Linked DNA regions of Homo sapiens: regions 1 and 3 are each linked to region 2. Evidence: fine-mapped expression QTL. A gene starts in region 2. Each other region holds a variant in brackets. All regions are shown on one strand. Distances are from middle to middle.

Region 1 (8,171 bases), 510 kb after region 2:
GTGGCGGCTGCAGAGTGGCGCAGGCCCTGGGTCTGCATGGCAGCCGTGAACTGCTCCTCCTCCAAGGAGCTGTCCTGCAGGGAGGCCACCAGCTTCTCCGCCTCCTGGATGCCCAGAAAAAGAAGAAAGGCTCAGCTGCCAATCTCAGCAACATCAGGATGGGGATGGGGATGGAGCTTGAGCTGGGGCCGGGGCTGGGGCCAAGCAGGTCAGGTCAGAAGTGGGAAGGGTCCCTCCCGCTTTCTCAGGCCCCCACACCTGCTGCAGGTGCTTCAAGCCTTCATCATCCTCCAGATCTCCGGGTGGGCCAGCAGAGGAGCCCACCCCGGGACTCAGCTGGATCCCCCGAATATCATCTGGAAGGCATGAGATAGGAGGTGGAAAGAAGGGCGGGGAGGAGACAAGATAGCTTTCGCCTACTCTCACTCCAGAACACCACGCTCTTGCCATGGCTCCTCAATGTGAATGCCCTGTGTGCCCACCCCCACGAGTGGGGAGCACTTTCTCCCACAGCCCCAGCGCACCCGGGAGGTAGGCCATCCTCCCTTCCTACCTTCGGCCGCTGGGGGCTCTTTCTCTGCAGTTTCGTCCCCATCCCCGTTTGTCCCCCAGAGTGGGCCCAGGGTGGGCAGTGGGGATGGGGAGCTGGACTTCTCCTCCTGAGGAGGCAGTGGGGTCAGCTCTTTCCCACCTAGAAGAGGGAGATGGCCAGAGTTCAGAACCAAGGGCTGGGCCTGCCACGCGAGTTAGCACAAGCCCTTGAGTGTGGCTGGAACCGCGGGTCACACTCCCTTAGGCCGAGTCCACCACTTCACTTGGGTCAACTCAACTAATGGCAGAGGGAATGCGGTGCCCTGACCCTCGCCTCCACGCTGCCAGACGCGGCAGGAACATATCACAACATCGCACAACACCACACAACACCGCAGACGTCACTCCAGGTTCTACAGCTTCTTCAAGGGACTTTCAAAGGTCATTTTGATTACGCCTGATTTCTATCTGGTACACTGCCTTGAAGACATGGCTCTGCTACCCCCTGGTTCCTCCCCACCTCTCAGCACTCTTCTTCCAGATCTAAGTAGCCTGATTCTACAGGTAGGTGGGCAGCCAATGCCCAGCCCGGCAAAGAACACCAGTGCCTGCCCGGCCCAGCCCCAGGCCCGCTGGGCACCCCGCGGCTCACCTGCCTCAGGCCCTTCCTCCTCTAGCCCTTCGGAAGGTTCCTCCTCCTCCTCCAACCCTTGGAAGTCCAGCTCCTGCTCCTCAGGAATGGGCTCCTTGGGGCCCTTCTGCATGGGGCCGGGGTGGGGAGCAGAGAACAGCTGGGGTGGGTGGGGAGGAAGAGGACCCCGGAAGGGCAGGTTCCCACCCTCGCCTCCTCACAGATACCTTGAGAGGCAAGAAGGCCCCAGAGGCATCAAAGGTGCCCATTTCTTCATCCTCATCGTCCAGGCACCACTCTGGGAGCCCATCCTTGTCCTCCTCAAAGCCTTCAGGCGCTCGGCACCGCCGCAGGTGAGAGCTGCCTCCCCCTCCCCGCCCCTCCTCTTCACCACACCCTCCTCGATCCCCTCGCAAATCAAATTCAAACTTGCGCCGCCGTTCCCCATGTTCCCGCCAGCCAGCAGAGCGGGGACCACCATCTGCACAGGAAAAGTCAGGGAGAAGAAGAGTGGGTACCCAAGCGAAGCCAGCGGCCCCCTCTGCTGCAGCTCACGGAGCACCTCCAGGGCTGCTGTCCCGGCCACTCCCACACCAGCCAGCCTCTGCTCCCTCCCCGTGGCTACAGGAGCCCACCCTCTCATTACAGTTCCTGCTCCCCACTGCCCCCGCCAATGCTACCAGGCCCCAATCTCACCAGGGCTGGCGGAGCGCCAGCGGTCGCCGTCTCGCCGGGGCCCTGCTCCGAGCCTCCAGCTGCCCTCCTCCTCCTCCTCCTGTTCCTCCCGTAGGGAGCGCCAGTTCTCGCTGTCTGAGCGGGCGTGCTCCTTCCTTGGGCCAGCCCCTCCCTCCTCAAAGCCACATCGTGCTGGGAGACGGGAAGACAGGGGCAGTTATTAGAAAGGCAGCGTGGTGCCTGGACCCTCAAGAAACGTTGGGGGGGCCAGCTCCAGGCCCTCCTGCCCCCAACACCTCCGAAATAAGCACCCCCAGACTGGGCCACCCATCTTGGTCCTCCCTGCCGCCCCGGCCGCCGCCCTCAGCAGCCTCGTACCTCCATCCCGCCTTGCTGACTTCTCAAACCGCCTCTCGCCTCTGCAGCAGGGGAAACGTGTGGGTCAGAAACAGTACAGCCTCCCCTGCCACCCTGTGCAACCGCCCCATGCCTTGTCCACTGTGCCCTGAGGCAGTGGAGGGAGGAAGGGGACAAACGAAACCAGGGGTCAGGAGCACCGGGATCTCGGACAGGGCTTATCTGGTGGGCCTCTGTTACCCTCTAGCGACAGGGCCCAGGCCTCCCCTCCCTGGCCTGCCCGGCTCTGCGCCATGCCCCCTCCCCGCCCCACCTGTCATCCCAGCTCTGGCTGCGCTGGATTTCCCGGGGGCTTCGTCCAAAGGCCCCATCGCCTTCTTCGATGCTTCTTTGGTAAAAGCAGCTGTCACCACGGCCGCGGCCTAGAGAAGAGGCCAGACGCACAATGAAACCTGCTGCACGTTCTCGAAGTCAGGGGCCCAGATCTGCCCGTCCCCAGGACACGCCATCACCCCTCTACCTCGGCTCCGCGTGCTGCCCCTGCCTCGGGAGGTGCCAGCCAGGGGGGGGCCAGCCCCTTTCCCCATCAGCCTCAGCACAGCCACGCTGTTCACTGACAGGGAGAAGTTTCTCTGAGGAGGGAGCCAGGGGCGGGAGTGAGGACCCAGGCACCCAACCACCTCCACCCCCACCCCACAGCACCCTCCCCGCCTGTCTCCTCAGCGCTGGCCCCTCTCCTCCTAACCCAACCCATGGCCTCCCCTCCCAGGCTCCCGCAGCCTCAGCTCCTGGCCCGGTCCCACCTGTTCCTCCTCAGTCAGCGGCTCCAGAGCCAGGGGCTGCAGTGGCTCGTCCTGCAGCACCGCGGCGAACTCCTTGTCCTGCAGCTCTTCCGGGACCTGGCAGTGGGTTGGGACAGCCAAGACACCACATGCTGCCAGATCCCCTCCACAGGCAGAGGCCACCACCGCCAACCCCCCTCGCCCACGCACCCACCTTGTTCTCCTTGACGTAGAGAGCCAGCATTTCCTCTCGCCCATAACGGTAGTCAGCCAGCTTGTATTTGGGCATGGCAGGGGACGGGGGTGGGGAGGCCACGCTGCCGCCCCCGGACAGGGCCCTGAGCCTGGACACAACACAGAGAGAAGAAGACAGAGGTCAGGGCAGCCTGACTGTGCTTTCTCGAATCTCCACGGCAGCCGAGGCACAAGTGACTCACCACTCAGGCCCAAAGTTGAGTGTCTCTGCTGCCATCGTGGGGCTGGGCGTGTTTGAGAGGCCGGGGGTGGGGAGGAGGGGACCTGGCGTTCACTGTCCAAACACCTGTGGGGGAACAGGGGCCATGAAGAACAGCACACGAAGGAGAACTTTAAAGCGCAGGGAGGACACCATGGGGGACATCCTAGTGGGCACAACAATGGGCCCCGGACTAGCTGGTGGGTCACCTGGGGTCTAAAAGGACTCACCTGAGCCAGCCACGTGGCCACTCACACCATGAGTTACCCAGAGATGAGTCCAGACGGTGAAAGACCTGGGGGAGGCGAGGAGATGGGAAGCTCGAGTCCTTTCGGCCTCAGCAGGGCAACCACCCTTGGCCCGGGGCTCACCTGGCAGCCTGGCCCGGGAAGAAGGAGGGCAGGGGCTGGTGCTGGAGTGAACGAGGGTACCCAAGCCACTGGGAATTGGTCTGACCTCAGTAGAGCCTGGGAGGGACCTTCACATCTGGGAAAGACCCTTAAGGAGAGCAGGGGGGAGGAGGGAGGGTTCAGGACATGGCTCTGCCGGCAGCCCTGCCCTGCCCCGCATGACAGGAGAGGTCCATTCGCCGGATGGTGTCTCTGGGCATCAGCACCCTCGCCACCCTCTCTGGGAGGCTGAGACAGGAGGTGTAGTGAAGAACTCGGGGAGGGAGGCAGCCGAGGCCAGGATGGACGTTCAGGGCAAAGATAAAACAAAAACAAGCAAGCAAACAAAAACCCACTAGAGCCACAAATAGCTTACAGAGAAAAGGTCAGTTACGGAGAAAAGGATTAGAAATAAATCTAGGAGCAAAATTCTTTC[C/T]CTCATGAAAAAAATCAGTTGGCTGCTCAGAAGCTCAAATCCAGGGGCTTGGTCTGGGGAGAAACCCAGTGAAAAGGAGCAGGAGGTGACTCTAGGGCCACAGACGGGTACACGACAAGGACTCCAGGCAGGCAAGCCTGAGCCAAGGCACCTCGGGCTGGTTTCCCCCACAGGAATCACACCCAGACCACCGCCCCCAATCAATAATGGAGGCTTAAACAACCAAGCCACCAAGGGAACGAGGATCTCAGGATACCAGCTGGGAAGCAGCCTCTGGCACCATCAGGTGGAAATAAGGTCAGGGCAATGGAGGCTGATGGGGGCGCGGCGGCAGCCTGTTCCTCTAAGGGAGGATGGAGGGGACTTTCAGGAGGAGGCGCATCCCTGGGGCCCCAGGCAGAGGACTCAAGCGGGTGGGCGGGGTCCAGGTGCTGCGGTGTTGTCACTGGCTGGGAGGGAGGCTGGCCCGGCTTGGTGCTGCAGCTCCCATCAACTCCAGGACGCCACAGTCTGGGAAAGAAGAGGAAGCGGGTTCAACCAGGGTGCTGAGGAGGAAAGGCCATCAGCCCCAGCTGAGCCAGCAGCCCATGACAAGCCGAGGCCTGCTCAGAGTCCAGGCACTCCAGGGGGAAACACCGGGCTCAGAGGCAACCCAAGGCCAGGCTGGCCTCCCCTGGGACCTCTCCTTCCTCTGCCTCGGCTGGATGCTCCAGTGGTGGTGTGTTCCATGACATGAAAAGCCACCAGCCTGTCACTGACTGCAGGTGGCCACCTAGAGCAATCTGGGGACTGGATGAGCCTTGAGGACATCACGCTAAGAGAAACACACCAGCCAAAAAAGGAGAGCTACCCCTTACTTCTCTTTCATGAGGTCTCTAGAGCAGTCACTCATTGAGGGAGGAAGGTAGAAGGGCAGCCACCAGGGGCTGAGGGGACAGGGAGCTGTTGCTGAAGGGTCCAGAGCCTCAACTGAGGAGGGGATCCTGGGGCCGCTGGTGGTCATGGCCGCACACCAATGTGAGTGTACTTAGTAACACAGAATGGCACAATTAGAGACAGTTAAAGTCTCCAAATTTTGTTGTATATTTTACCACAATAATCATTTTTTTAAAAAAGCTTTAGGGAACAAAAGGTATCTGGAGATAACCACCGCATACCTAAGTTTTCCCCACTCCAAGAAAAACACCCCACATTCCTTCAAATCAGCCTCAGGAGAGGCCATTTTGGGCCTCCTCCAGTTCATTCCTTCTAGAAGGCCAGAAGCTCATCCTGGAGGCATGAGGGTGGGAGAGAGTAGAACAGAAAAGGGACCACCTGGCCAGCACAATGGCTTATGCCTATAATCCCAGCACTGTGGGAGGCTTGAAGAGAGGAGTCCGAGACCAGCCTGAGTAACAGAACAAGACCACGACTCTACAGAAACAATTCTAAACATTTTTTAAAAAAGAAAAAGTGGCCAGGCGTGGTGGTTCATGCCTGTAATCCCAGCACTTTGGGAGGCCAAGGCAGCCAGATCACCTGAGGTCAGGAGTTTGAGACCAGCCTGGCCAACGTGGCAAAACCCTGTCTCTACTAAAAATACAAAAATTAGCCAGTCCTGGTGGTAGGTGCCTCTAATCCCAGCTACTCGGGAGGCTGAGGCAGGAGAATCGCTTGAACCCAGGAGGCGGAGGTTGCAGTGAGCTGAGATTGCGCCCCTGCACTCCAGCCTGGGCAACAGAGCAAGACTCTGTCTCAAAAAAAAAAAAAAAAAAAAATTTAAAGCGATGGCCTCACACTGCCCCCTGCCAGGCGCAGCAAGGGCAGCTCTCCTAGGTGCCTCCGGCTCAAGTCACCCATCCTGGCTGTGTCTTGGCTGCAAGGGGCACACAAAGGGGGAATGGTTCATGCAGACTGAGGACAGCGACACCAAGACAGGGGAGAGAGCAGGCCCAGAGCAGGAAAAAGCCCATGCCACCCGCCTTCTTGGGAAGAAACCAGGAGAGTGAGGTTAACTCTCTAGGCACCCCCACAGCAGGGTCTGGTGCCGGAAGCTGATGGTGCCTGGCCCCTTCCTTGGACTAAAGGAACTAGTGGCACACCTGCAGGCCACCATGGGGCTCCCACCCTCCAACAGGTTCTGGACTGGGGGCACCTCTGCTCCTCAGGGGGCTCTTGGCCAAGTCTAGAGACATTCTGGGTTGTCACCACTGGGCAGGGGGTGCACAGGGCAGCCCCACAGCCAAGAGCTATGTGACTCCAGATACCAAGTGCGCCAGTGCTGAGACACCCTCCTCTGCGCCACGAGCATGGGCACAGCCCTTGGGGGTCTACTGGGCCAAGGGGAAGGCAAGGGAAGGCAGGTGTGTGCACGCTGGGTCATTCTCCTCTCTGAACAGCAGGGACATCATTCCCTAATTACACTGTCCCACGAGGGAAATCTGAAATCCTGCCAGGAGAAAATCTTTGAGAAAAGAATAGATTTTTTTTTTTTAAGAAAAACTGCCTAAGTTTGTCTATTGCAAGCTCTCAGGGCCAGGTATCTGATCCCTGTCCAATGAAGGTAAGAGCAGGAGGTGGCGGGGGCTGGGGTACTGCCACCTGCCCGTCTCAGCTTACCCGGCTGAGCTTTCTCAGCTCAGGGTCTCCTTCTCACAGGCCCCTTCCAGCCTGTCCCCCGCCCTGGCCCTGCCCTCAAGCCTCGGCCTACTTCGGCTCCTCGCCCCTTCCCCACCCCTTCTCTTTCTCGGGCCTGTCTACCCTCACTCCCCCAGCATCTGAATCAATGCTTTTGAAAGACTGCCCCCTGCCGGAGACAAGGGGCGAGGACACGCTGGGCCCGGGTGCTCCAGTAGGCGCCAGGGCGCGCGGGAAAGGGAGCCTGCTCTCTGGGGCTCAGAACTCAAGAGAGAAAGAAAAGACAGAGAACAGGCGGTCCCAGTGCACATTCAGCTAAGAACATTATCTCCTCACTCCATCACCCCTAAAATTAGCTCCAACACAGAGCACTGTGCCTTGGCACAGAACAGAGCCACTTAAACAGAAGCACAGTCCCCAATTCCTCAACACTGGAACAACCGCCCAGCCCCAGGCCTGCTGGAGGGGACCTGGCCCTTTCTCAGGATGGAGATTCTCCAAGCGTGGTAGGGTGAGGACGCTGAGGCTTAAAAAAGAGATGCAAACCCGCATTCTTCGCGGCTGGTCGGTTATCCCAGCTCTCTCCTCTCTGAGCCATCCCAGCAAATCACACCACCGCTTGGCAATTGTCTACAAGTTAACAGTTTTCAAAGGATTTTCACTCTTTACCTCCTGTGATCCCTTTTGCCCACTTGCCCAGCCTTGGGCTCCAGCCAGGGAAAAGAAGGAGGAAGCTGCTCCGACAGCGTGCCCCGACATCCTTGACACTATGCAAGACTGGAGGTGCGCACGGTAGCAGTAACCATCCCAAACTCGCAAGCATTATTCTGTGAGTTTGAAGCCATTTTACATTTGTTAGACTTTCAACATCCTTCATCTAGCCTCCTCCTCTCATCTTCTCTCCTCTAAAGTGGGCTATTTTTCTTTAATTCCCAAATTCCAATAGCAGATGTAAAAGTTAGGGCTAACGCATCAGATCACGAACACAAGACTGATGTGTCCAACAGCAGAAAAAGCTAGTCCAGAAGTTTAAGCACATGGTCCACTTGACTAACCACCACGTGGGACCCTCAGGGCCCCTGGTCCCCAGGCAATGGCAGGGACACCAAGGCCAGGTCTACCCTCAAATCCTTCCCAATGGCACGACAGACCGCTGGGGGACCAAGACCTACAATCTAAGAAAATCAGATTGGAGCTGGCTAGCCTGGTGGAGGGTGGCTAGCCTAGGTCTGCAAAGGGCACAGGAAAGATGGGAAGGAGAAAGAACCCCAAATCCCCCATGTCGGCAGCAAAGGAGAGA
Region 2 (8,153 bases):
GCAGGGCATAAGTGAGGGGACCCCCCGGCACAGGGGACAGCCGATGAGACGCATCAGAGCCTGGCTGCAGCCTTCAGACACCGGCACCTGGGGGCAGAGAGTGGGGCTGTGTCCTCCACAAACGCTGTGGCTGCTCTCAGCCTGGCTTGGTGCTGGGCACAGACAGAAATCACATACCCCACCCTACACCTAGGGTTGGTGACCCCACGTGGCAGCAGGTGAGATTGTCACAGATCTGAGGAGGGAGGTTCCAGGTTGCTGACTCTGATTCGTGGGAGGGGTGGAAATAGAGAGGCAGTTAGGGGTGGAGGGAACATTCAAGGACAAGAGTGAGCCCATCACAGCTGGGGAGGGAGGAGGCGGTCAGGAGGCAGAAGGTGAGGCTGGGAGGTCAGGTAGAGGATGGGCAGTGAGAGAGGCCAAGCCAGGCATCTGGCCTTCAGCAGCAGGGAAGTGGAGTCATTGAGGGATCCTGGGGGGTTGGGCGGGGGCAGTATCCAATCTCCTACTGCTATGGAGATGAGCAGGCCCTTGGGGACTGAGGAGGGTATGGGTCCACAGAGGGGAGGAGGGGGTCAGAGATCATGGATCGTGGACCATTGGAGGTTTCACTCCAGCCCCCTCCTTCCTAATTCATCCTAGGACACCAGGGCCTGGAGGCAGACAGAGCCCAAGGCCTGTCCTGCTGGCTGGTGGCTGTTTCTTCCTTGTGGGGTCTCTCTCACTTCCACCTCTCCCTCCCTGGGCCCTGCCCATACTCAGGCACCCTCCAACCTTAAGCGCTTCGCTGACCACATTTCTTCCAGTCTCCAGGCCCTGCACAAAGGCTCGGGCAGCCACCAGGGTCCGGGTTATCTGGGAGAAGGCAAAGAAGGTGAGAAAAACCACAAGGTTGTTATGGGTCAGTCAAGACTGGAGCCAAGAGACTGCATCAAGAGCAGTGAGGGTTGGGTGTGTGGGGTTCTCTCAGAGTGGGTCGAGTGTTGGGTGGTACAGAGAGGCAGGTTCAAGAGCCCCCACAGGAATTATAGTCTTAAAGAAAAACAAAGGAAGGCTTGGGAAGAGATGGAGGGATTATGTTGTACAGGGCTTAGAGAGAGAGAAATTGTGTATCGGAACTAACACTGAACTTGAAGCCAGAAGACCTGGGTGTGAGCCACGGCTCTGCCACTTACTGGCTGAAAAGCTTAATCTCTGGGAGCCTCAGTTTTCTCATCTGTAAAATAAGGGCATGACTGTCTACCTCACAGGGTTATGATGACAACTAAATGTGATACTATAAAAGAAAATGCCTTTTGCGTATTGAATGCACAATTCCTGTTTAGTTGAACCAGAGGAAGTCAAGGTGTTACGATTAGGAAGGGGTTGGCACAAAGGTGGCTGGAGGCTAAGGGCAGGTGAGTGTTTGTGTGAAACTAGGGCTCAGAATGGGAGGTGGCAGGGGTGGGGGCATCTGCTTCAAGAAGACCAAGGGGCACTGGGTCGGGCAGTGGTGAGTAAAGCTCAGGATAGGGATCACCAGGTCAGAAATGGCTTCAATGCAGGATGGGGGATCACCAGGTCAGAGGTGACTGGAGCACGCCAGTTTGGAGGTGAGTGGTGCACAGTTCAGGGGTCACTAGGTCAGAAGTGGTTGAAGCTCAGGCCTCAGGATCCCTCACCTGCAGGCGGAGGCGGCGGGGTGAGTCCCCAAAGGGCTGCAGAGAGCCATCGGTAGATGAGGCCAAGCGTGAGAGGCAGAGCAGGTAGTCAGGGGGGAAGCTGTACTGTGGGTGCAGCAGCGGGAACACTCTCTCCAGGAGCTGTGCCCAGAAATCCGCCAGGGTGTCATCCAACCCCTCACCAGATTCCCCATAGAAGTCTCGCAGCCGAGAGAACAGGCCATTGAATATGAGGGCGTGCTGGGCATACAGGCGGCCGTAGGAGTGGGAGAAGAGCTGGGTCAGAGAGTGCTGGGCTACTGAGAGCATCTCCAGAAAAAACTCTGCAGCAAATGCAGGGAACAGGTGGAAGGCAGGTCAGGCCAAAGAATGGGGAGAAAAGTGAACAGGCAGAGGCAGGAGGAGATGGGAGAGAAGAGAAAAGACAAGTGAATCAGAAACTGAGTAACTCTCAGAGATGGGGCAGACAGGGAATGGGGGAGGGCAGGGCCCTGGAGACAGAGTCTGGGGGGTGGGCGGGCTGGGAGGGGATGGAGTCTTCACAGATGGAGTAAGGAGTGGGGACAGGAGCCTTGCTGGGGTCCTAAGCACCGAGAGGAGCTGTGAAGCTGAGTTTGGGGACCCCAGGTCCTCACCATCAAATTTTCTGTGCCTGGCAGCCAGTGTGTGAACCAGAAAGGAGCCGCTGTCCTCCACCAGGCCTCGGAAGGTGGCCTCAGTCTCCCTGATCAGCCTCTGCTCTGTCTCACTGGAACAGCAGGTGTACTCCTGGGGACAGACCCGGAGGTGCTCACCTGGACAGAGGAGACGTGAAGGAATGGTGGGAAGTGATATCCTAAAATCCCTTCCATTTCCCGCCTATCTCTGGGGACTATGCCTTCTCTTCTACCTGCCTGGTCTCTTTTCTATTGTCTGCACCCTCTTCCCTACCTGAACCTATCCCCTACCTTATTGTCTCCTGACCCATCCCAAGTTCACTCCCATTAGCCACGGGATCATCTATTTAACAGCTGCCCTGAGGGCCAAGTCAGTGGTCAGAGTGTCCTCAGGTGACCCTCCCCAATGTCCACACCCCAGACCTCGAGGGACTTGGAGAACAGCTTCTAGGGGATGAAGAATGGGGCTTGGAAGGGTGGGGTTACTTGGTGAGCAATAAAGTATTCTCATAGAAGGGGCTAATAGAAACAGCGAGGAGAACATGGCTGTGAAGAAAGAAACACATAGGGGGTGTTAATTAGGAGGAGGGGATTCCTGGGGTGGGGATGGAGTAAGAGCGCTATTCTTTGCATAGGAGGGTTATTGTGATCCCGGTAAGGAAGTTACAGGAGGAGAACAGACATTACTGTGGGATGAAAAGATTAGTATAACGGTCACTCTGAAAAGGAAGAGAGTTATTGTGAGATGAGGAGGCCCCGCCCCCGCCCCCCACCCCCAATTCTCTAGTCTTCCTCTTTCTCCTCACCTGAGATCAGGGCGGGAGGGATTAGGTTTAAGCTATATCCCCGGGCCCCCAGCACCTGCCGGGTCTCTGCACAACTCCGGGTGACCTTTGCCTCGCTCCCGGGTCCGGGACCAGGACCGGGACACAGAGGCAGCAGCAGAAGCAGGAGAGGTCGCAGCGCGGACATAACTGCAGCCACCCCAGGACGGCAAAGTGGGTCCTAAGGAGGAAAGCAGAGCCTCCCAAACTCGGGAATCCGGTACTCGGCCGCGGGACCGCTCCGCGGGCCAGAGAAAGAGCGCTGCTCCGGAAAACTGAATACCGAGCACGATAGCTGGACCAGGCGGCATCTGCCGAGACAATGGGAGCGGGGAGCCGGACAGGGGGCGGGGCCCGAGGCGGGGCCCCGCCAATAATGGCTCGGAGCCGGCTTCAGGGGCGGGGGCAAGGAAGAAATTAAGCCAATGTAGCGCGGAAGCTCGGCAGGGGGGCGGGACCCGGCTGGCACTCAGGAGGTTGGTGAAATAGGGGCGTGGTCTCCCTCGGGGGCGTGGCGATCCGGCTCAAAAGGCGGGGCCTGGGTGGAACCTAGCCTATGGCAATTGAGAAGCCAGATTAAAGGGGTTACTAGCAGTCTGGTCCAAAACCCGCCCAATGGAGTAGGAGATTGAGGGTAGCGGGGGTGGGACCTGGGTGGGGGCGGGGCTAAAGCGGGCCGCCCGCGTGCCCAAGCCCACGTGAGAGGGCAGGACGCCTGAGAGCTTGAGGCCACACGAGGCTGTGGAGCGGCGTGACTCAAACGTGGCGCGCATCAGCTCGCACACTTCCAAACCTCGCGATAGCTACTGGCCCTGGGCGAGCCGTTGGGATTGCGCTTGCGCACAGCGTGTCTTGTACGTTCCCGCGCTTTTCTGGAATCTTTCGCCCCCGGAAGGGCAGCGGCGGGCGCCTGTGTGGAAGGTGGGGTGGCCAGAGACACCCGAGGGACCTGAGGTGGGGACCTTCCCTGAACCCTGCTCGGCCAGAAGTCACTCTTCCAGGCTCTGACAGGTTTCTCCTTGACCCAAGAATAGGCCCTCTCGCGACCCTCCCGGCCCTGACACTAGGAGCCTTCCCGGGCCGTGCCCCAATGGCCTCCGCCACAGAGCTGGAGAATCCTCTCCCCAGGCCTCCATAGACTGAGAGTCCATTCTCTTAAGCGCTTGGAAGGCTCTTTATCCTGGAGCCGCTTACCCCAGGGGCAGTCGTAGATATTTTTACCTTCTGGAAAAATAGGAAACGCGCACCTGCCTTTCCTCCTTTTGCGTTTCCAGCCCTATTCTCATGGCGCCTCCACCCCCAAATCCTTAAGAGCCTCCTGTTCCATTCCAGGTGGAATCAGGTGCTAGTCCTCTGGAAACGAAAGCCTGGGGTCTTCTTGTATTTTTTTTCTTATTTCTTTCTTTATTTTTTTTATTTCATTTTAAAAAACCTGTAAGTTCCCTTGCAGAGGGCGGTTTATACTTCCGAAGCCTCCAGAGAGGGGTGCGTCTGAAGCTGCCCTGCTGTCTGCCTTGCTTGGCTTTTTTTTTTTTTTCCATTTAATTTTTTTTTTTTAGAGACAGGGCGTTGCTATGTGGCCCAGGCTGATCTTGAATTCCTGGACCCAAGCGATGCTCCCGCTTCGCCCTCCCAAAGTACTGGGATTATAGGCGGGAGCACTGTGCACCACGCCTCGGCTTTTGGAGAGCAATTCCAAACCCACTGCCCAGTTTCTGGTGTCTGTAATCCCTTGGTGCTTTAGGTCCACTCTTTGCCTTATTTTATTTATTTGTCATTACTTTTTTTTTTTTTTGAGACAGAGTCTCGCTCTGTTTCCCAGGCTGGAGTGCAGTGGTGCAGTCATAGCTCGCTGCAGCCTCGACCTCCTGGGCTCAGGCGATCGTCCCGCTTCATTCTGCCGAGTAGCTGGGACTACAGGTGCACCACCACACCTGGCTAGTTTTTTTGGTTTTGGTTTGGTTTTTTCGTAGAGACAGGATCTTGCTATATTGCCCAGACTGATTTTGAACTCGTAGGGTTAGGCAGTCCTCCTGCTTCAGCTGCTCAAAGTGCTGGGATTCCAGGTTTGAGCCACCCTGGGCACCTTGCCTTTTTTTTTTTTTTTTTAATTATGAGTTAAATTCCCTTGCAGCAGGCAGTTTACACTTCTGAAGCCTCTAGAGAGGGCTGTGTCTGAAGCTGCCCTGGTGTGTACCTTGCTTGGGTTTTGTTTTTTTTTTTTTGGGTGTGTCTCATGTTGCCAAGGCTGGTCTCAAACTGCTGGGCTCAAGCAGTCCTCCTGTCTCAGCCTCCTGAGTAGCTGGGACCACAGGTGTGCGCAACAACACCTAGCTAGTTTTTGCTTATTTTTTGTAGAGATGGGGTCTTGCTATGTTGCCCAGATTGGTCTTGAACTACTGGGCTCAAGCAGTCCTCCCGCCTCAGCCGCCTAAAGTTCTGGGATTACAAGTATGATCTACCACACCCAGTGTGCAATTTTTTTTTTTAAAGAAAATACCTATGAGTTAAATTTCCTTGCAGTAGGCAGTTTGCACTTCCACAGCCTCTAGAGAGAGATGTGTCTGAAGCTACCCTGGTGTGTGACTTCCTCAGCTTTTGGAGAGCAACTCCAAACCTGCTGGCCAGTTTCTGGGGTGTTGTTGTGCTTAATCCCTTGATGCCTTAGGTCAGCTCTTTGTCTTATTTATTTATTTATTTTGAGATGGAGTTTCACTCTTGTTGCCCAGGCTGGAGTGCAGTGGCACGATCTCAGCTCACCACAACCTCCGCCTTCTAGGTTCAAGCGATTCTCCTGCCTCAGCCTCCCAAGTAGCTGGAATTACAGGCATATGCCACCACACCCGGATAATTTTGTATTTTTAGTAGAAATGGGGTTTCTCCATGTTGGTCAGGCTGGTCTCGAACCCCTGACCTCAGGTGATCTGCCTGCCTCGACCTCCCAAAGTGCTGGGATTACAGGCATGAGTCACTGTGCCCAGCCATTTGTCTTATTTATCATTACTATTTTTTTGAGGGGGGACAGGGTCTTCTTCTGTCACCCAAGCTGGATGGAGTACAGTGGTGCGATCGTAGCTCACTGCAGCCTTGAACTCCTGGACTCAAGCAATCCTCCCACCTCAGCCTCCTGAATAGCTGAATACAGGCATGCTCTACCACACCTGACTAATGATTATTATTATTTTTTTTTTAGAAATGGGGTCTTGCTGTATTGCCCAGGCTGGTCTTGAACTCCTGGGCTCAAGCCATCCTCCTGCCTTGGCCTCCCAAAGTGCTGGGATTATAGGCATGAGCCACGGTGCCCAGCCTTTGTCTTAGTTTTTGGTCCCCCTCACCTGACCCCAGAGTTCTAGAACCATTCCCTTGGAAAGAAAGGGACTGGTCAGGGCTGGGGATGGAGAAGTGCTGTGGTAGGAGCCCTTTCTTCTCTTTCTTCCCCAGCTGGATCGCCATACCTACCCTGTGGTCCTCATCTTCCTGGCCTCATAGCTCCTCCTCTCCAAGCATGTCTTCCCCGTTGCAAAGAGCTGTGGGAGATACCAAGAGGGCCTTGTCTGCATCTTCTAGTTCCTCTGCCAGTCTACCCTTTGATGACAGGGACTCAAACCATACCTCAGAGGGGTAAGTAGATGTTGCATTGTGTGGCCACTTCCTGTGTCCCTGGCAGCCTTCCCCCTCGTTTTCCCACATTGATGATAATATGCGTGGGACTGTGTGAAAACACCAGAAGTGCTATACTCGTTCAGCACAGTGACACCCTCCCTCCAGCTCCAGGTGTTTTTTTTGGCGGTCCTAGATGTTGTAGACATCAAAATAGTAGTACATCCTGTTTTTTTTTTTTTTTTTGAGACGGAGTCTCGCCCTGTCGCCCAGGCTGGAGTGCAGTGGCGCGATCTCGGCTTACTGCAACCTCCGCCTCCTGGGTTCAAGCACATCCTGTTTTTAATCCATCATCCATCTTGTCTAAACCTCTCTTAAACACATTTCTATGTTCAGCATGTACCAACCCTGGTGGGGGCTGAGAGCTGGCAGATGGGGGAGTAAAGAGTTCTTTATTTGTTGCCTGGTAAATTGTATATACTTTTTGGCTAGTGTCCCCTATTTCTTCTACTTGGGGATTTTGTAAATAGGTCTGTGTATCCTTATTTATTACCATATATGAGTTTATTCTGTGTAGGTTATAATAATATATCTTGGTTTTTTACCTTTCCAGAAGGAAAAAAGCGAATTTCATACAGATCTGCTTTATCCCCTGGCTGTTTTAATTGGCTTTCTCTGAATCATTTCTGTTTCTGTCAGTGCTGCTGTGGGGGACCAGATTATATCAAAGTTATAAACTTGAATTGATAAGACATGTGGTTTATGTTTCAAGGGGGTGAAATTTAACTCTAGATACATATTACTCTCCCATTTATGGATGAATGATAGATGACTTCCTGAGCCATGATTATCTTTCTCTACAAAGAGCAGTGATCTCGCTACCTGCTAAGTGAGTATCATTTGATTCTCTTCTTCGGAGAGAATACTAGGAAGAGTTGTCCTTCTCCTGCCTCATTTCCTCATTCTTCATCTCCATTGCTTTCATGTGAAAGTTTTCCTTTAAGGCTTTGTCCCGGCCGGGTGTGGTGGCTCATGCCTATAATCCCAACACTTTGGGAGGCCGAGGCGGGTGGATCACCTGAAGTCAGGAGTTTGAGACCACCTTGGCCAACACGGTGAAACACCTGTAATCCCAGCTACTCGGGAGGCTGAGGTAGGAGAATCGCTTGAACCTGGGAGGCGGAGGTTGCAGTGAGCTGAGATCATGCGATTGCACTCCAGCCTGGGTGACAAGGGTGAAACTCCGTCTCAAAAAAAAAAAAAAAAAAGACTTTGTCCCAACTTCCTACTAACAATAAGCTCATTTTTTCTTAAAATCTGGATATGTTTTTCTCATGGAGATGGGGTGCGGTGAGAGACAGAGAAACCATAATTAATTAGCCTTTTATATGGAGGGAATAGGGTGGTTATAT
Region 3 (8,171 bases), 88 kb after region 2:
CCACTAAACACCAACTCCCCAGCTCTTGGCAACCACCATTCTTTCTGTCTCTATGACTCCGGCTACACCAGGTATTTCATACAAGTGGGATCTCATGCAGTATTTGTTCTTTTGTGACTAGTTTATTTCACTCAGCATGATGTCTTCAAGGTTCATTCATGTTGTAGCATGTGTCAGAATTTCCTTCCTTTTTCCCCTCTGAATAATATTCCTCTGTGTGAATACATCCCATTTTGTTGATCTGTTCATCCATCAGTAGACACCTGGGTCACTTCCACCTTTAGGCCTTAGTGAATAAGGTTGCTGTAAATGTGGGTGCATGGCCAGGCGCGGTGGCTCATACCTGTTATCCCAGCACTCTGGGAGGCCGAGGCTGGTGGATCACTTGAGGTCAGGAGTTCAAGACCAGCCTGGGCAACATGATGAAACCCCATCTCTACTAAAAATGCAAAAATTAGCCAGGTGTGGTGGCGTGCACCTGTAATCCCAGCTACTCGGGAGGCTGAGGGACCAGAATCGCTTGAACCCAGGAGATGGAAGTTGCAATGAGCCAAGATCGCACCATTGCACTCCAGCCTGGGTGACAGCAAGACCCTGTCTCAAAAAAAAAAAAAAAAAAAAAAATTGGGGTGTGCAAGCAAAACCTCAGGTTTTCGAGCAGAGATCTAGCTCAGAGGTTGGAGTATGTTCAATGTGTTATGGTGAGGGCAAGCCTGAGTATATATGGCACCTAGACACCAGTTTTCCATTTAGGCCAGGCACCGTAGCTCACACCTGTAATCCCAGCACTTTGGAAGGCTGAGGCAGGAGGATCACTTGGGTCCGGGAGTTCGAGACCAGCCTGGGCAACATAGCAAGACCCCATCTCTACAAAAAAAACAAAAATTATCTGGGTGTAGTGGTGAGTGCTTGCAGTCCCAGCTACTCAGTGGGGCTGAGGCAGGAGGATTGCTGGAGCCTGAGAAATCGAGGCTGGAGTGAGCTGGGATTGCATCACTGCACTCCAACTAGGGTGACACAGTGAGACCCTGTCTCAAGAATTTTTTTCAGGCCAGGTGCGGTGGCTCATGCCTGTAATTCCAGCACTTTGGGGAGGCCGAGGCGGGCGGGTCACGAGGTCAGGAGAGCAAGACCATCCTGGCTCACATGGTGAAACTCCGTCTCTACTAAAAATACAAAAAAATTAGCCGGGCGTGGTGGCAGGTGCCTGTAGTCCCAGCTACTCGGGAGGCTGAGGCAGGAGAATGGTGTGAACCCGGGAGGCAGAGCTTGTGGTGAGCCAAGATCGCACCACTCCACTCCAGCCTGGGGGACAGAGCCAGACTCTGTCTCAAAAAAAAAAAAAAAAAGAATGTTTTTCAAAAAGTTTTAATTTAGCACCGTGGATGGCCCACAGGGACCTTGGACACCCAGAATCCCACTGGCCCAGCGCGGATGCAACTGGGCTGGTTTCTCATACTGCAGATCTGTTATAAGAGAAAACCTTTCCAGCTGTGTGCAGGCTCAGAAGAGACCAATTAAACCTTTTACAAGGTTTTTTTGTTTTTGTTTTTGTTTTTTCTGAGATGGAGTTTCACTCTTGTCGCCCAGGCTGGAGTGTAGTGACATGATTTTGGCTCACTGCAACCTCTGCCTTCTGGGTTCAAGTGATTCTCCTGCCTCAGCCTCCTGAGTAGCTGGGATTACAGGCGCCCGCCACCACGTCGGCTAATTTTTGTATTTTTGGTAGAATCGGGGCTTCACCTTGTTAGCCAGGCTGGTCTCGAACTACTGACCTCAGGTGATGCACCTGCTTGGCCCTCCCACAGGTGCCAGGATTACAGGCGTGAGCCACTGCGCCCAGCTACAACTGACTTTTTTGATCCCTGGGAGATAAGTCAACACCGAGGGACGACCGGTCCTAAGCCCTGGACATGGACCTGGGGGTGAGGACAGAAGGGGATCAGGACCAGCCCTCTCATCCTGCACCCTGAGGCATGGGTGATCCCAGGAAGCCACTCACCAGGCACCAGGGTGGCTTCCTGGAGGAGAGGATGCTGAAGCCGACCTCAAGAAGTGTCTGTGTTAGGTTTAAGGACTCATGAGAGTTCTCTGGCTGGACTAAAGGTAGCATGATCACATAGTCAGGTTTGCCCTATTGTCTGCAGGTTGTTGTTATTATTGTTAAGATGATGATGATGATGATGATGATGATGATGAGACAGAGTCTCATTATGTTGTCCAGGCTGGAGTACAGTGGTGCAATCTCGGCTCACTGCAACCTCTACCTCCTAGGCTCAAGGAATCCTCCCACCTCAGCCTCCTAAGTAGTTGGGATCACAGGCAGGCGCCATCATACCTAGCTAATTTTTTTGTATTTTTTGCAGAGTCGGGGTCCCACCATGTTGCCTCCGCTGGTCTCCAATTCCTGAGCTCAAGCGATCAGCCTAAAGTGCTGGGATTACAGGCTTGCTGGGATTACAGGCATACTGGGATTACAGGCATGAGCCACTGCACTTGGCCAACCTAGTAATTATTTTAAGTACTTCCTGCTATTCTAAAAAATGTTTGTTCCCGTCTCAATGATAAATGGCAGGGTCATTTCATTCCTTATCTGTTGCTACATAACAAATTACCCCAAATCTTAGTGGCTTGAAACAACAACAAACTTTTATTATCTCTCACAGTTCCTATGGGTTAGGAATTTAGGTGTGGCTGAACTTGGCAGTTCAAGGCATTGGCTGGGGCTGCAATCCATTGGAAGGCTTGCCTGGGGCGAAAGGATCTGTTTTCAAAGCCCCGCTCTGCCGGTTGAGGGTGGGATGCCTCAGTTCCTCTCCATATGGGCCTCTCCATGGGGCTGCTTGGGTGTCCTCAGGCCTTGGGGGTTGGTTTCCCACAGAGCAAGGGATCTGGGAGAGAGGGAGCGCCACGCAGAAGCTATCGTTTTGTGCCCTAGCCTCGGAAGTCTTGCGGTATTGCTTTTACCATCTCCTAGTGACTTAGAAGAAAGTAGCCAAGACAGACATTTAAAGGAGAGGGGGGTGGAGGGATCCTAGCTTTTTTTTTTTTTTTTTGACACGGAGTCTGGCTCTGTTGCCCAGGCTGGAATGCAGTGGCGGGATCTCGGCTTCACGCCATTCTCCTGCCTCAGCCTCCTGAGTAGCTGGGAATACAGGCGCCCGCCACCACGCCCAGCTAATTTTTCTATTTTTAGTAGAGACGGGGTTTCACCGTGTTAGCCAGGATGGTCTCGATCTCCTGACCTTGTGATCTGCCCTCCTCGGTCTCCCAAAGTGCTGGGATTACAGGCGTGAGCCACGG[C/T]GCCCAGCCGATCCTAGCTTTTAAAACCACCAGCAGCTGGGAGCAGTGGCTCATGCCTGTAATCCCAGCACTTTGGGAAACCAAGAAGGGAGGATCACTTAAGGTCAGGAGTTTGAGACCGGCGTGGACAACAGAGTGAGACCCCCTCTGTACAAAAAAATCTAAAAACTACCACAGTTGGCCAGGTGCAGTGGCTCATGCCTGTAATCCCAGCACGTTGGGAGGCCAAGGCGGGCAGATCACTTGAGGTCAGGAGTTCAAGACCAGCCTGGCCAACTTGGTAAAACCCATCTGAATTAAAAATACAAAAAATTAGCTAGGCATGGTGGTGGTACCTGTAACCTCAGCTACTCAGGAGGCTGAGGCAGGAGCATCACTTCAACCCAGGAGGCAGAGGTTGCAGTGAGCCGAGATCGTGCCACTGTACTCCAGCCTGGGAGACAGAGTGTAACTCCATCTCCAAAAACAAAAGCAAAAGCAAAACAAAACAAAACTACCATGGTTACCTAAAATAGAGCATGTGTTGGGAAGGGAGTAGACAGAGCCAGAGTGGATAGACAGAAGACATCTGATCAAGAAAGAATTCAGGCCGGGAGTGGTGGCTCACGCTTGTAATCCCAGCACTTTGGAAGGCCAAGGTGGGTGGATCACCTGAGGTCAGGAGTTTGAGACCACCCTGGCCAACAAGGCAAAACCCCGTCTCTATTAAAATACAAAAAATTAGCCAGGCATGGTGGTGCATGCCTGCAATCCCAGCTACTCGGGAGGCTGAGGCACAAGAGTCACTTGAACCCAGGAAGCAGAGATTGCATGCAGTGAGCTGAGATCACGCCATTGCATTCCTGCTTGGGTGACAGAGTGAGACCCTGTCTGAAAAAACAAACAAAACCAACAAGGCAGAGATGTGGCCAGGGATTCTGAAGGAATGCATGAAGTCGACCCAGCACCCACTCCAGTTGTGTCCCTCCATCCTCCCGGACTCCCCCCCTGCCCCTGCACTCCCAGCCATGCCCCCTGTGCGGGCCTCTGGTCCTCTCACCCTCTACCTTTGCTGGAGAACACACAGGACTCACGTCTTTTCCTCCCATGGGACAGAAACTCCTTTCGCGCTTCCTATTAGGCCTTGCCTACAGCAGGTACACACTGCTGGGTTTCTGCGTGAACAGAGCATACCAATTTGCACCCACCACAGGACAGCGGCTTGTTCCCTGCAGACACCTTTCTCTTTCCAGCCTCCAGGCGTTTGCTCCTTCAGCCCAGAGGGATGGGGCAGCAATGAGCATTTGGGCTGCCCTAGAGGCAGGAGGCAGGAAGATATCTGGATAGTTCAGGAAAGAGATAAGGACAAAGGAAAAAGTCATAGGAAAAAGATTTGGGAGCTAGGGTTGAGCCAGCCCCTTTCTCTAGGCAGCAGCAGACTATGGCTGTCCTGAGTGGGCACACGCACGGCTCTGGGGCTCACCCTGTACACTCTTCACCCATACCCCTCCCCTGATCCATCTGTACCCACCCACTCCTGTTCTCTGCTTGCTCATCTTGCTTTATCCCCAGCACCTCCTGACATTTTCTCATGCCACCCATCACCCCATTCTTGGATCAGATGATGCCGCCTCCTCTAGGAAGCCTTACTGGCTTGCAGCTCTGTGGTCCTAGAGCATTTTGGCTGCCCCTGCCAGAGGCCTGACACCTAAATGACAGGTGAGGTCCTTGGCTTAGTTCTGTGAGAGCAGTGACAGCATCTCCACTTTCCAGAATCAGGATGCGTTATGTGTGTGTGTAAAAAGTCTTCTAAGCCTGGGCTTTTCTGGCTCTGCCCTCACAAACTGGTGCTGGCCAGTGGCCCCAGGGCCTTCCCAGTTAATGCTTAATGGCTGGGTACAGTGGCTCACACTTGTAATCCAGCACTTTGGGAGTTCCAGGTGTCTTTACTAAAAACACAAAAATTAGCCAGGCATGGTGGTAGAGAGCTGTAATCCCAGCTACTTGGGAAACTGAGGCAGGAGAATCGCTTGAACCTGGGAGACAGAGGTTACAGTGAGCTGAGATCATGCCACTGCACTCCAGCCTGGGCAACAGAGCAAGACTCTGTCTCAAAAAAAAAAAAAAAATGCTTATTGGAGCTTCTAGTAGACCAGATACTCTTGAGAGTGCTTGGCGTGGTTTATCTCATCAAGCCCTCACAACCACTTAGGTTGCAGGCATGATCATCATCCCTGTTTTACAGGTAAGAAACATAGCACAGAGAAGTCAAGCAACTTGCCCAAGGTCACACAGCCAGGATGAGCAGTGCTGGGATTCCAGCCGAGGTGTCCCAGGGCTCTAACTCCCTTGGGCTAGCCTGTCTTTCCCTAAAGGGCAATCAGACAGTGGCCTCAGCCCAATGTGCTCCGAGGAATGACGAGGGCTCTGCATGGACTTTTTGCAATTTTAAGCTTTTCTCTCATAAATGCCTCTTAAGACGTTAGTGTTCACTGGCCAGGCATGGTGGCTCACGCCTCCCAGCACTTTGGGAGGCCCAGATGGGCGGATCACAAGTTCAGGAGTTCGAGACCAGCCTGACCAACAGCTCATGCCTGTAACAGTTTAAATGTTATGTCCACACGCACCTCTGAGAGGCTGAGGTGGGAGGATCATGTGAGGCCAGGAGTTCAAGGCCAGCCCGGGCAACACAGTGAGACCCCCATCGCTACAAGAAATTTAAAAATTAGCTGAGTGTGGTGGTGCGCACCCGCAGTCCCAGGTGCTTGGGAGGCCGAGGTGAGAGGATTGCTTGAGCCTAGAAGTTCGAGGCTGCAGTGAGGTATGATGGTGCCACTGTACTTCAGCCTGGGCAACGGAGACCCCATCTCTTAAAAACAAACAAACAAAAAGCTCTAAGATCTAGTGCCACCTCCTACAGGTAGGCACCCAGCCTTCTAGGTACCCTGCTAGACCAGCCCTTCCCTGACTCCACCCTGCTGTAGAGTGATGGCCTCTTTCTTTCTCTTCCACCAGGCTCTAGGGCTTGGCAGAGGAAGGGGCAAGGTATCTCTGCATCCCTTGGACCCAGCCACACCCCCACACAGAGTGAATGTTTCCTAATGCCATTCCCTTTCCACAACTCCACTGCACGAGAGAGAAGTGACTTAAGTCTGCTAAGGGGCGGAGGGAAAGGTTCAGGAAGGTTTCAGCGTGCTATCATTAGCTCTTGAGGATTGAATAGGAATTTACTAGGGGTGGATGGGGGAGAATATTCCAGGCAGATGGAAGAGAGGTAGATACGAAGGCACAGAGGTATGTAGGGAACAATAAGGGAAATTGTGTATTTGCTGGGGGAGGGCTAAAGATGAGGATTCAAGGCCAGGAGCAGTAATCCCAGGACTTTGGGAGGTCGAGGTGGGAGGACTGCTTGAGCCCAGGAGTTGGAGGCTGTATTGATCTATGATGGCGCCACTGTACTCCAGCCTGTACGACAGAGCAAGACTCTGTCTCTAAAAGAGAAAAATAAAAAACAAAAAAATAAAGATGAGGATTCAGGATCTAGATCCCAAAGGGCCTCGAATGCCATGTCAACGATTTGATGCTATAGAGTGACTGACAAAACTGTAACCGGGCCGGGAGTGGTGGCTCACGCCTGGAATCCCAGCACTTTGGGAGGTGGAGGCCAGTGGATCACCTGAGGTCGGGAGTTCAAGACCAGCCTGACCAACATGGAGAAGCCCCGTCTCCACACAAAATTAGCCAGGCGTGGTTGTGCATGCCTGTAATCCCAGCTACTCGGCAGGCTGAGGTAGGAGAATCGCTTGAACCTGGGAGATGGAGGCTGCAGTGAGCTGAGATGGCACCACTGCACTCCAGCCCGGACAAGAGCAAAACTCCATCTCAAAAAAAAAAAAAAGAAAAGTAAACAGGTGGCACAGGGACCCTCAGGGCATGCTGTCCTAGTCTGGGCTAAACGTAGGTTTTGGAGAGGGAGGTGACAGAGCTATGGGTCACCACCTGGGGGCAGGTATTACAGGAAGAATCTAAGGGGTTCTACCTGGATGGCTGATTATTGAAAACAGTTTAAATGCTATGTTCGCAGGCTGCGACCCATTAACACTTGCTAAAAAGCCATTTCCCACAATCGTCCCACACCATCCACACAGCAGTTCTGTGTCCATGAGGGGGCCAAGTAGTGCTATCTCTATTTTACAGACGGACAAAGTGTGAGCCAGAGGAGAGACTTTGCCTCAGCCACGCAGGCAGCGGGCTCTGGTCACACATGACCTGAAGCCACGATCCGGGCTCAGAGTGCTTGGGGTGGCAGGTCCTCAGGCATTTGACGAATGTTCCGCACCTTCTGAGGCCGGACCATGGAAACAGAGATGGCCTTTGGCCTCTGAGTCATCTTGAAACTGGACTAGTCAGCTGGGTCACCTGGGCCTGGGACAGGACAGGCTGCTTTCTGCAGGAGGGAGGAAGGGGGACCCACTGAGGGACAGGTTTTCTTGTGTTCCCAGAGGCCAGCAGGGGGGCTTGACCCCAGAGACACGCCTATCCATGAGTACCCAAAGGGGACCCTGAGTTGGGGGCTGGAAGAAGGCCAGTCTCTCCACCAAGGGAAAGGGGCTGAGGGACCCTGCCCTTTGCTGCCTTTCTAAGAAGCCCCCAAATGCCCCCTCCTTCCAGCACCCAGGCCCTGTGCACAGCCGCAGCCTGAGTCATCATCCTCATTTGAATGGTGGCCGAGAAATCAGCCAGGGGGCTGCCCAGGGCTGAGGGCCAAGACTTGGAAAAACAAGGCTGTTCTGTTACCTCCAAGCCTTGGAACGTCCAGCCCGGCTAGGGAGTGGGGGGCAGAGGGCAGGCAGAAGCAGGATCTGAAGGTGTCAACAGCCAGAGGGGGC

Evidence for each region.
Region 1: its variant is fine-mapped to the expression of STAG3 in whole blood (GTEx, PIP 0.96).
Region 3: its variant is fine-mapped to the expression of STAG3 in prefrontal cortex (GTEx, PIP 0.99).

The regions. Positions count from the first base shown.
Region 1 is chr7:100,684,791-100,692,961 of GRCh38, forward strand. GIGYF1 (GRB10 interacting GYF protein 1) reads right to left here. Exons shown (of 27, transcript NM_001375765.1): 2 at 3,802-4,765; 3 at 3,661-3,725; 4 at 3,414-3,517; 5 at 3,191-3,320; 6 at 2,998-3,093; 7 at 2,715-2,826; 8 at 2,508-2,616; 9 at 2,216-2,256; 10 at 1,859-2,029; 11 at 1,390-1,643; 12 at 1,184-1,289; 13 at 554-691; 14 at 259-356; 15 at 1-104. The coding sequence starts at 3,448. Among named protein-coding and RNA genes, the nearest start is that of GIGYF1, 5.4 kb to the right of the region's middle. RefSeq lists a silencer at 6,957-7,126. The variant C/T (reference allele first, on the strand shown) is at 4,256.
Region 2 is chr7:100,173,911-100,182,063 of GRCh38, forward strand. It overlaps STAG3 (STAG3 cohesin complex component), which reads left to right and starts at 4,008. Exons shown (of 34, transcript NM_001282717.2): 1 at 4,008-4,095; 2 at 6,583-6,762. The coding sequence starts at 6,647. GPC2 (glypican 2) reads right to left here and starts at 3,471. Exons shown (of 10, transcript NM_152742.3): 1 at 3,124-3,471; 2 at 2,297-2,455; 3 at 1,662-1,984; 4 at 775-855; 5 at 1-87. The coding sequence starts at 3,289. RefSeq lists silencers at 3,433-3,552, 3,733-3,782.
Region 3 is chr7:100,262,240-100,270,410 of GRCh38, forward strand. It overlaps LOC105375426 (a long non-coding RNA gene), which reads right to left and starts at 5,245. Exons shown (of 2, transcript XR_927809.2): 1 at 4,377-5,245; 2 at 2,628-2,891. It also overlaps the pseudogene CASTOR3P. RefSeq lists enhancers at 7,040-7,562, 8,087-8,171. The variant C/T (reference allele first, on the strand shown) is at 3,304.